Linked DNA regions of Homo sapiens. Each later gene encodes a partner of the first gene's protein in a complex. Each region holds a gene or a part of one and is shown in the gene's direction. Other genes may lie near its edges.

Region 1 (4,640 bases):
TTCATTTGTCCACTGGATGTCACTATTTTACTAAAAGGCAGCTATTAGTGTGGGACTGTGACTGAGGTCTTAAAGACTGAAAGAGTTGGGGTTCATTTTCTGTTACAACTTACAGGAACATTTGTACTTTAAGAAAAATTTAAGTGACAAATGTTAGAAGATGATGGATTGAAAAATATAAGTAATTTGGCATATTGACCCTATATAAAAAAGTGGGCATTTTGTAACATTCCTTCAGGAAGAATAGAATTGTATGCTTTTTTCTGCATGTTTGTGATCACTGTGAGTCTCAGATGATTATTCCAGTTTTCAATGATTTTTCAAAATAAAAGTCAATCAGCATTGTTATTTATCATTAAGGTATTGAACACTGGATTGCATGGTTGAATGTGTCTTTAATCCACTACAAAATGTGCTTGTTATTGATAGGATCATGTTGTTAAATTGTAAATTTTCAAAATTAATTGATGTTTTAAAAATGTTGAGACCAAAGTAGTATAGAAGTATGGACTTAATTTAATTGTAAAATTATTAGAGGTATTTGTTGTAGAGCTTTATATATTAAAGAGAGGTATTGGTGCATATAAAAACAGTAATATTATTGTTATGCTTGTATTCTTGCATTTCAGGGTAAGTAAACCCTGAAGAAATCTTATTTTAGTATAGCTACAGCTGCAGTAGCTTTTAAGTATGTATCAACATTTCATTATAAATTATAGCTTCCTGGTTCTGTGTCTCAGCTGTTTCAGAACTTTCAGCCAAGTTAAATCTTTTTTGGTGTTGAAACTTTTAGTAAGTTGAGTAAGCTATTTTTTTCCCTACGGTAATCCACAATCTGTTCTTTGTGTGGGTTGACACCTATTTATAATTCTTAAAATAAGGGTAGCTCAAAGGAGCCAAGTACAGTAGTTTAGCTTGCTACTGTTGAGCATGAATAGCAGTAGGTTGTTTTCATTAATGCAGTTTTCATAATGTATCCCAGAATTTTAAATCTTGACCATAGAAAAATACAGTCATTCATTGGCAAAGATGTACAGTGGTGGTTTAGTGCAGTGAGGAAATGATGGGAATTTTTATCTTAGAAATGGATGATTCGTGAATAAAACTAGGTACATAGTAAGTGTATGATAGATGTTTGATTTGTAAATTACAAATATAAATTATCACCCCCATTTCCATTTATTTTCTTGATATATCAAAATGTGTTGACTTAGTGATTCTCAATCTTAGCTACATATTAGCCTGGCAGAGCTTTAAAAAATTGATACCTGGGTCCTATTCCATAACAACTAAATCAAAATCACCCTTTTTTTTTTTTTTGTAAAGCTTTCCAGGTGGTTCTAAAGGACACCTAGGGTCAATAACCCATTATAAAATGATCTGATTACACTGGACACTCTTAGGAAGTATCAAAATAGAACAGTTCAATTTGCAGCTACTTAATGATTAATTACATTTCTTAGGTTTTTTTTTTGTTTTTTTTTTGGTTTGTTTGTTTTTTGTTTTAAAAGAGACAGGATCTTGCTTTGTCTCCCAGGCTGGAACACAGTGGTGTGATCATAGCTCACTGCAGCCTGAAACTCCTTGGCTTCCACCTCAGCCTCCCAAAGCATTAGGATTATAGGCGTGAGCCACTGCACCTGGCCAAGTAATTTCTTTTAGGAATAAAAGGTACTTGGCATTCCTTATTTGGGAAGTAATTACAGTCTTATCTTTTTTTTTCTTTTTTCTTTTTTTTAATAAAATCTACCAGTAATTTAAATGTGAGCTTTTTATGTCTGTCATCATTCTGCCCCCTTTGCCTTTAAAACTTACAAAAATACGTGTTTGTTATTTGAGAAAGCATGTTTAAAAATTGCAGATGAGAAATATTGTCGTTAATAATTATGTACTGTCTTAATGTGGGCACTTCATTTGTTAGTATAATACTAGATAATAGCAGCCTAGTTCTTTAGGATTTGACGATTCAAATTTTTTTTTTGTTTTTTGTTTTTGTTTTTTTTTGAGACAGAGTCTTGCTCTGTTGCCCAGGCTGGCGTGCAGTGGTGTGATCTCGGCTCACTTCAGCCTCCGCCACCTCAAGGCAGTTCAAGCAATTCTCCTGCCTCAGCCTCCCGAGTAGCTAGGACTACAGGCGTGTGCCACCTCTCCCGGCTAATTTTTTTGTATTTTTAGTAGAGACGGGGTTTCACCGTGTTAGCCAGGATGATCTCGATCTCCTGACCTCGTGATTCGCCCGCCTCGGCCTCCCAAAGTGCTGGAATTACTGGCGTGAGCCACCATGCCCAGCCTCAAATATGTTTTTAAAAAATATCATTGTCCTCCTCCTCTTAAGATTTTTTTAAGTTATTTTGCTCAAGTACTTAAGTAGTCTGGCTCAAGTACTTTGTTTACAATTAAAATGGATATTATAGCATTTAATAGAAGAAATGGTTATGGCTTATCCAAAAAGAATGTCAGCATGACCTGGTGTAGACTTAAAAAACTACATGTTTGTGAATATTTTATAATGTGGAATGATCATTGAAATATCAAGGATTCTAGTAATTGTATTTCCTGAATAAATGTATGTTTATGAATTTTCTAACTTACATTTTGTTGTGTCCTCTGCCAACAATCTGGTTTTATAATTGTTGTCTAAAGTTTGCTAGTAGTGTTTCTTCAAAGGTTATTCCAGGTATGGTTAAGTAGTGAGAAAAATCACTTATTAATTTTCAAGAACTTTGAGACTAATTTGTATTGACTCGGTTTTTTAAAATAACTGGCAAATGCTATGCTTCTACTTTTAAAATTTGTGGTAATACCCAGAATGGATGTAAAATAACATTTTTCAATAGATTACTTCATTTATCAATTTAATTCTGATTTTAAGGCTTATTTAAAATAAATTTGTATGAGTTATGTCCTCGTTCTTTGGATTTGAAAAAAGTTGATATAACTACACAATAGATAACGTTTATGAAAGGTATGTATAAAAAAACATAATTCCTGGTGGCTGCTGAAATGAAACTTTGAATTTCTATATTTTGCTTTGTCTTTCATAAAATTTAAAGAAAACATTTTCTTGTGTTATTTCAAGAGCGGCAGTATGACGTGATTGAGAGCACAGATTCTGAAGCCAAACAACTCTGGTTTCAATCCCAGTTCCACCATTACCGTGTGTCACCTTAGACAGGTTGCTTGATTTCTTTGTGCCTTAGTTCCCTCACCTGTCATTTGTTAATAAGAATGCCTGTAAGTGTCATGCCATTTTCTGTAAGGCCCTTAAAAAGGTGCCTGGCATAGTAAATACTGTTTGTGTTTGCTTTTGTTCATGTAAAATAGCTTCAGAACCTTATGAGCTAAAGGAAATAATTCTGGTCAAAAAATTAAAATTAGCAAGTTTTTATTTTTGGTATTTAGAAAACAACCTTTATGCTTAAAAACTTTAGAAGAATAAGATTCATAAGAAATTATCAAATTTATATTTTGATCAAAGAAACTCGGAATTTTTAAATTGGAGCTTTGAGGATTGAAGCCATATTCTAATGAAAATCATTGGAAAATAAGTCCAAGTAAGGATTTGTTAAATTAACCTTTAAGGTGATGACCTAGGCATAGAGACAGGAGACTACTGGACTAGGTGTTAGACAGTCCAAGGCATCACCACCATTAACTTTAAAAAAGTGTGGAAATGTGCCACACAGCCGAGGAACAACAAAAAGCATTTAGTGTTAGGACTCAGTTTTTTTCAAAACTTTAGTAGACCAGAGTATCCATTCACTAAATTTTTCTATTCGGGTTTTGTTATATTCACTATTTTGATTATTCTGATTTTACTATAATGAATTGCTGACCCATATTTTGTACGTTTACTTATTAGTGGCAGATAATCTCCCTGATGGAATCTTGAAGATTTACTTTATATACAGGGCAAAAGGTAAATTCATACAGAACCCATTTGTCAATTTTATTTTTTGAATTTTAAATTTTAAAGGGACAAATACTTCATTTTAACAAGGTATATGTAAGGCCTCTCCTAATTCTCATGAACAATACCTATTGGTTAGAATGAGAAATCATCCACACTTTCTTACCTAGAGACAACTTTAAAAACACCAAATCTTTTTTTTTTTTTTTGAGACAGGGTCTATTTGGACACCACAGTATGTATATTTAAAATCACCAAACATCAAGATTTGGTGTTTTGGGGCCAGGTGCAGTGGCTCACACCTGTAATCCCAGCACTCTGGGAGGCCTGTAATCCCAGCACTCTGGGAGGCCGAGGCAGGTGGATCGCTTGAGCCCAGGAGTTTGAGACCAGCCTGGGCAACATGGCAAAACCCCGTCTCTACTAAAAATACAAAAATTGAGGCCCAGCATAGTGGCGCACACCTATAAATCCCAGCACTTTGGGAGGCCGAGGAGGGTGGATCGCTTGAGGGCAGGAGTTCAAGACCAGCCTGGCCAACATGGCGAAACCTCATCTCTACTAAAAATACAAAAATTAGCGGTGCATGGTGGCATGTTCCTGTAATCCCAGCTACTTGGGAGGCTGAGGCAGGAGAATTGCTTGAACCCAGGAGCCAGAGGTTGCAGTGAGCTAAGATTTCACCACTGCACTCCAGCCTAGGTGACAGAATGAGACTCTTGTCTCAATC
Region 2 (8,214 bases), on another chromosome or scaffold:
CTAGAACAGCACTGTCCAAAAGATATATTATGAGCCACATTTGTAATTTAAAATTTTCTAGTAGCCACATTTAATAAAAACATACAGGTGCAATTAATTTTAATAAAATATTTTATTTAACCCTGTAGATCCAAACTTAACATTTCAACATGTAATCAATATGAAAAAATATTAATGAAATATTTTACATCTTTTATGCTAAGTCTTTGAAATCCCAATGTGTATTTTACACTAATAGCACATCTCAATTCTGACACTAAGCTACATTTCTGATGAAAATCAGAAATACTTAATCTGTATTTAGGTTTCATAAAATTTGCGTTTGCAAAAGTATATTCACATACCCAAGTTGTTCCCAATATACATAAAAGTTTTCCAATAACCGAATCAAGTACCTTTTTCTAAATTTAAATTTTAATTAATTAAAATTAAATACAATTCAAAATTCAGTTTCCCAGTCGGACCAGCCACGTTTCAGGTGCCCAGTAGCCACATGTGAATAGCACAGTTCTAGAGAGAAAAATGCATCAAAAATCTCCTTGGTTTCCTCATTCTTAGGAGCACCCAGTGAAGATAAATTAGGTGTTTCCCAAAAGCCTCCAAATGACTGTATGTGTGGGTGAATGATGTTTGTTGCATCTTAGTTATAGCTGATGTAAATGAACTAACAAAGTCATAATTGGAAAATGTGAGATTAAAATGTTAATTATATTGTGAAGATGTAAAATAGCCATCTCTGAATCAGTTTTGGTAACTAGTTCTGATTCCTTAAAGTCTGGAAGGGTGATGATGTGATCTCTTTGGATATCAAAAAGAAATGGTCAGAATCACATTAACACAGTCCATATTCTGCTGATTTGTAATTGATAGAATATTTTTCAGGAAACACCCCTGGGAGAAAAAAATTCATCTTTTCTGACTGTTTCAGAGCTGCATAAAGAGGGGCAGCAAGCTAATTTTGAGGTGATAGGTACTCTATGGCTACCTTAACTACTATGAACTGTGAAATCTCATTCATATCCTACAAAATCTGACTTGGTCAGTGCCAATTATAAAATGCCATTATGTGAAATAATGAATTCAAGCTAGCCTTATTGTTAAAGAATGTAATAATAGTGTTCCTCAATCTGAGTAAAGGTTGAAGGTTTCTCTAGTAAATTGTCTTAGTATATATTGATCTGGAAATTGAAATTAGCTTGAGATTTTCTTGCAGGGACCTTGACAGCATACATTTTTAACTTATAATTTGTTCACCTCTGAATTTGAACAGAAAGCCCTTGAAGATATTCACATGTACTGAAAACCTTTTTATTGATTTCTATCCAAGTTCTATGGAATTTTGATTTTCTTTTTTACCAAATTAGTATCACAAGTTGTTTTTCACCACTAGATCTTAATAGGTTTTAATTTTTACTAAGGTACTTTAAAATAGATTTCACTTTTCAAGACTAATTGACTACCCACTCACTCCTCTACCTACGCAACCACCTACTCACTCACCCACTGTGTACTTGGCCTTACTTGATGGCATAAATGAAAGTTCTCGTTTAATTTAGACCCTTCAGTGTGTTTTTTTCCCCCTTGGTTGAGAAAGATAACTTACAGAGTTAATGAGGTTTTGAAATATAAGATCATTATTTGGAATATGTTTTCTTTCCAGTGGTTGCAGCCTTTACCCTTGTTAAAGCTGTCTTTGAGGGAACATGTGCCCAATTTGTTACAAATATTGGAAGGATGCCGTTTCCCTTTTTAAAAATTAAAACTCTTTTCCCTGTGTTTCTCATTTTTGAAAATCTTGCAGAAACTCCTTTGAGTGACTGTTGGTTCTATAACATTTTCTATGTAACTATCTTTTAAATGACTGAAACAAATCTCCAATAATAAGACCTTATCATAGTCCCAAAACTTCTTGTCTTAGCAAATGTAGCGATTACTGGAAAGGAAGGGCGTTATGCAAATGAGGTTAATGACTAATTTTTATGTCATGATCATTTACTGTATCTTTTACAATTATAAGTAAGTGTACAACCGGTAATACTACATGAAGGAAATTTAAGACAATTCATCGAAATTAAAACATAGAAAAATGCCTACTTTCTTGGTACAGCAGTGTGTATGAAAGGGAATAACAAAATACATACCATTTTTACCTTGTGTTAGGTGAATACTTGCCCTGTTTAGTAGCCTGTAGCTTCAGACTTTCCTGCTCTGGTAGGACATACACTAAAATTGGAATGATGCAGCATGACCCTTGCTTAAGGATGACGTGCAACTTTGTGAGGCATGCTGTATTTGCTTACTCCTCGAGAGCACTTTTATTTAATTACAGTTACTTATTTATGGATCTCTCTAGTTCACTAATAAGGAGCTTCCTGAGGGCAGGGAATGTTTCTTACACATCTTTCTCCATTAACACAGTGCGTGCAATGTAACTGCCTTTCATTAGCTGTGGAATGAATTGAGTAGTTTTAATAAAATCTCATTAAAAGGCAAAAAAGCATGTTTGTCAACCTCAGAGCAATTATTGTCCGAAGAGCCTGCATTAGTTTAAAGTAGTGGTTCTCCACCTGGCTGCATATTAGAATCATCCGGGGAGCTTTTAAAAAAGATCAACGCCAGAGCCCTGTGTCAAAGCAGTGAAGTCCGAGTTTCTGGGACTGGGTCCTGGTCACTGACATTTTTTTAAAGCTCTCTGTGTGATTCTAATATGCAGCTATAATGAGGAATCATTGGCTTAAAACTTAGATTATGTATGTAATATTTTGGGACTGGCTTTTCAGAGGCTTACAATTCTTACAAAGTAGAATAAATTCTTTTTGGAAGGTATTGAAGCTAAATGGCTAAAACATGGATTTTATCTTCTATGCACTTGTGTTTCTCAGCCTTATTGTGTAAAAATTTAGTTTTAGCTTGTGTTTGGCTTTGATTTCTTGGGCCTTTTAAGATCCACATTGATTTATGACACTCATCTAATGCTAACATGGCGATTGTCTGACGTTTGGAACAACACAGAACAAGGATTGCTTCAATAACAGTTGATGATGGTTTTCCACTATAATGGCTTGATTTAATATGAAGAAATTTATCAGTTTAGTATGGATTGTGTTTGTACATACACTCTATTAAAAGAGTATGGTTAAGTTGCTTGTATGCTTTAAATTACATACTTGTGATTCCAGTAATGCTGTTAGCTGGAGAATTGAGTTAATGCAGCCTTTATGTAAATACTGGATTAATAATACGTAAAGTATATAATTCAGCATACAGAAAAATTCAGCTTTACTAATTTGTACTAATTACTATGACTTTCACATGTATTGATTCATGCAGTGATTTGGGTTTCTAGTACCATAGGGAGAATTTCGCATTGTGTTGAAAAAATGTTTCCCGGAAATTTTAACTAGACTTTGTAGGTAAACTAGTTTTTAATGTTAGGAAAAGATCAAGTGTTTGCCTGAAGGAACCGAGAATTTTCCAGAAATGAGTAGATATTCCAGAAATACCAGTGATCGTGAAAGCAGTGCATGATCACAGTGACAGCCAAGTAACAAGGTAAAAGAAGTGATCAGCAGCTAAATTGTTGGTGGCCCAGAAAGAATGCAAGCCATGGGAGTTAAGCTGTACTTCTACAGAGGAAAATCCTTTTGAACTCAGGGTGTGGATGCTACAGATAGCAGGCCTCAATGGGAGTGGGGAAGCAATATTGATTCCTGATGATCCTAGGATCATTTGGAGGGAGAACAGAGCTACTCCGTTGCTTTTCTGCATGTATACAACCTTCTCTAGTCTCTTCCTGTCTGCTTTTTACAGATTGCTTTAGGGTGTGTTGTTTGAAGTTGTCTTCATAAATACTTCCTGTGGACTCCCTTAATTTTTATGTCCGTAACACGCTTCTATGTACTTGACATACGCAGTTCAGCTCTCTCCATTTTTTCCTTGTATCTGCAACAGTTTCACCTGATGAACTACGTCTCAAGTGTCCCTAAATTGTGTACCTGGATATTTCCTTTAAACTGAAAATTCTGTCTCCAGCTGTAGTTCTACTCAATAAATTGAAGGAGCAGATATACCTTGCTTCTTGAGATTATTCTTGAATTATTACATTTTCTTAAACGTTTTCACATTTTAAATGTGGTAGGAGCACTGCATTTAAAGGAACTTTGACATAAGGTTGTTTAAAAAACTTCTATAACTTAAAGCTTACTTTATAAAGGGATTGACATTTATCCCTCTAATGTTAGGCATTTTGGATGTATTATTTAATCATACCCATTTTACAGAGAACACTGAGATTCAGAGGGGGTGATCAGTAATTCGCCTAAGATCACACAGATTCCAACGCGGTTCCATGGTTTTAAAGTCTGTTCATTTCATGCTGCATTCTGCTGCTAATTCAAGTTGTGAAAATACTGTGTTGGATTTTCTTAAAGACACGTCTTCATTTTCAGAGTTTCTATACTGCAAATTTTAGTTGTTTGACTTTCTGGTTAAATTTCTTATTTCTTCAGTAGAGGTTCCATATACTATTCATTCTTTCATCTGTTTCTTTTTTATTTTTGTCTTTCTCTTTAATGAAACATCAGCATTTGTTACCAAACTAACTGGTAAATCTAGCAATGGAAATATAGACTCTTGGCCATCTGTCCAAAATATAATTTGTTTTGGAACTTTCTCTACTTCTTTTACTCTCCAAATTTTTTCTTCCATTTCCCTTGCCCCAACAGACAGGATAGTTGATTAATTACCCCTAACTTGCCAAACCAGAAGTAATAAGGTTTCAGAGGTAGATGTTTGTTGGAAGTGGGGTGGAGTGGTTTCCAAAGGATAGTTATTCCTTTATCCTGTGATAAAAATACGGAGATTGTTCTCTCTGATTCTGAAAACCGTGTAGTGAGCTGCAGCCGCTGAGTCTGTGAGCTTCTAGCTGTTTGCCAGCACTGTACACCTTAAATAATCAAGAGACTGAGTTAACTATTGCAGAGCAGGTACCGGACCCCAGCCAACAAGCTGATGGGATGTGCTGTTCTCACATTTTTTGGTTTTATTTTTTAGTTGCAACTGACAGTGAAGATTCTAGAAGCACCAAATATGGCTCTGGATTTATGCTGTGGGATTTAAGATGCTACAGAACTTGCTCTCCTTCCTTTCTGTCCTGGAGCCACTATGGTATTGGTTGTAGAGCCCAAGTCAGTATAGAGTCTCTGACTTCTACCCTGGGAAAATTTCATTTCCGAAGCTAGTTTGTTTTGAAGTTAATGTTTATTTCCAACATTGAGATTTAATAATTTTGTGTTACTTTTCTTTATTAATTAGTTTTTATACAGTAAATTATAAAAGTAATGATGCACGTAGTAAATTTTATTTTCTTTTTTTGAGATGGAGTCTCGCTCTGTCTCCCAGGCTGGAGTGCAGTGGCACGATCTTGGCTCACTACAACCTCCGCCTCCTGGGTTCAAGTGATTCTCTTGCCTCAGCCTCCCAACAAGCTGGGATTACAAGCATGCACCACCGCGCCTGGCTAATTTGTGTGTGCGTGTGTGTGTGTGTGTGTGTGTGTGTTTTGAGACGGAGTCTCACTCTGTCGCCCAGGCTGGAGTGCAATGGCGCGATCTCGGCTTACTGCAAGCTCCGCCTCCCAGGTTCACGCCATTCTCCTGCCTCAGCCTCCCGAGTAGCTGGGACTACAGACGCCCGGCTAATTTTTTTTTTTTTTTTTGTATTTCTAGTAGAGATGGGGTTTCACCATGTAAGCCAGGATGGTCTTGATCTCCTGACCTCGTGATCCACCCGCCTTGGCCTCCCAAAGTGCTGGGATTACAGGCGTGAGCCACCGCGTCCAGCCTAGTTTTTTATTTTTAGTAGAGACGGGGTTTCACCAGGCTGGTCTCGAACTCCTGACGTCAGGTGATCCACCTGCCTTGGTCTCCCAAAGTGCTGGGATTACAGGCGTGAGCCACTGTGCCCAGCCATACAATTTAAAATATAGGTGATACAAAGATAAGTAGTGAGTCTGTCTCAATTCTCCTACCATCCATATCCCCATTCTCTAGAGGTAACCATTGTTCAGTTTCTTCTCCATCTTTCTGGAAGCTTTTTGTTTAAAAGTGAGATATTTGTATACTATGCTGAAATATTGATTTTTCATGAATAATAGTATATACTTGATGATCTTGTCATATCCATCAATGTATCTGTCTGTCTCTATCTCCTCTTTAGCTGCTGCCCAGTATTCTGTCATATGGATTGTTACTTTGGCTTTGGATTGAGTGCAAGCCAATTGTAATTTTACATTGCTTGAAATGCTGAGCTGGAATTTGGGTGAGAGGTATGGAATGGCAGTGAAGATTTGGGAGTCATCTGTGTGGAAGTAAAACTGAGTGAACAAGTTCTTGGGGGTTGACTGCTCTAGGGCTCGTGGTTTGGAGTATAACTCATAGAGTTAGAAGAATCAGGATAATGGGCTGCACAGAAGTTTAAAAGAGGGGGGAGGATCAATAATGTAAAATGCCAATATACTCTGAGGACTAAGAACACATGTGGCTATAACAGAGAAACAATTTAAAGCACTTATCAAAATGAATATTATGTTTAATAGTCAATTCATGATGTGTCTGAAAAGCTAGGTCTGGCTTCTTTTCTGTGGATACTAGTAATTTTATACTATCTCTCTGTAAATCTATCTCAGAACCAACATATTTAGGGTAAAAACAAAGTAGATTTCTTTTTCACTCTAATTGTGTTTTGCAGATTTCTGATGACTGGCTTTTAGGTAAAATCATTTGGTTTTCCTAAGATTATGTCCTTTTCATTCCCGAGCTTGTGCATGACTGTCAATTAAATGGAAGCCTTTCATGAAGTGACAAAGTAAGTTTTAGATACTTTACATTTACTTTAAGTTCTTGGTATGTGTCAAACCACTGTTATTGTCTTATATCTTTCTACTATAGGAAACTGAATTCTTTCTAGCCTCAAGGATTTTTGTCCACGTTGGATGAATGTAGTACTGTCCTCCTCTTTCACATTTCTTCTCCCATCACCTCCTAACTAAATTTGTTCATTGGCTATTTTTGGTTGTCCACATCCATTCACAATAAGAAACGATTGCTTCGTTGTACATAAGCCAGTTTTTTGGTATCTAAGTGCGTGCTATTTCACTTCAGCTTCTTGTATTCTATTTATTACTGGGCTGTTGTACATTGTTTTTTCTCCCAATCTTTGTGATTTCTTTTAATATACTTTCTTTCCTTTTTGCTTTGTAATCATTGTTTTGAGTATTTGAATCATTTGCAGGTAAGAATGTGGATTGTTCTGTCTCTCATGTAGTTTAATAATATCCAAAATATACTATGTTCAGTCTGTATTTCAGGCTTTTAACACTTAAGTTAGAGTATTTTGGTATATTTAAATCTAGGATAGAAGTACACTGTATTACCATTCAACTACATGCAGATTTTAATGTTTTCTTAAATTAAAGGATGATGATATTCATTCAGTTACAGAGGTCTCTCTCTCTAGTCCTTCCATGGTGTGCAGATTACCATTATACTACTGCTATTTCATAGATTCTAATTTGTGTTTTTAGAAAACATCATCAATTCTTGGCCTTCTTTCTTACCCTTGGTATGTGATTTCCCCTAAAGGTATGGAATGCGGTTGCTCTGTGGCTTGTTAGGCAGCCCCCTTCTGATCTGGTAACCTTTGGGCACAGTGTGGCTATTTTCTCCTTATTTATAAAAGGAATGATAGCTGCTTCACAAACCATTTGTGTGGATTAGTGAATTGTAAAGTGCAGCATAAGTATTTTTTATTTCTAGAATGTCTCTGAGATACTCAAATTACTTTTGGCAGTTATGTACGTAAGTTTCAACAATTTCCAAATGTGCACATTCTCAGTGCTAAACACAGGCTCTATTACATAAATAATATGGTGAAATGAACATTCTTTTCTACCATGTGTGTAAAATTGTTAGTGGTGCTAACTTTTATTCATTGTTCATTTATGTATTCATTTCTAGCTATGAGGTCCTGGGCAAGTTAGTTAGCCTCTCTGACCCTCAGTTTCTTTATCTGTAAAATGTGGTTAATGGTATATACTTTGTAAGGTTGTTGTGAGGATTGAATAGCATGATCTATGTGAAATGTCTAAAGGTTGTTATTTTAATTGCCATTGTCATTATTATTATTTTTTAAATTTTATTATTATTATACTTTAAG

What was found.
Region 2: LIN7C (region 1) and CASK share a complex: the UniProt entries of both Homo sapiens proteins name them as parts of the brain-specific heterotrimeric complex.

The regions. Positions count from the first base shown.
Region 1 is NC_000011.10:27,492,837-27,497,476, reverse strand, and holds the end of LIN7C (protein lin-7 homolog C), read left to right. Parts: 3' UTR 1-3,059; downstream 3,060-4,640. UniProt on the Homo sapiens protein: Plays a role in establishing and maintaining the asymmetric distribution of channels and receptors at the plasma membrane of polarized cells.
Region 2 is NC_000023.11:41,913,336-41,921,549, reverse strand, and holds part of CASK (peripheral plasma membrane protein CASK), read left to right. Parts: intron 1-8,214. UniProt on the Homo sapiens protein: Multidomain scaffolding Mg(2+)-independent protein kinase that catalyzes the phosphotransfer from ATP to proteins such as NRXN1, and plays a role in synaptic transmembrane protein anchoring and ion channel trafficking.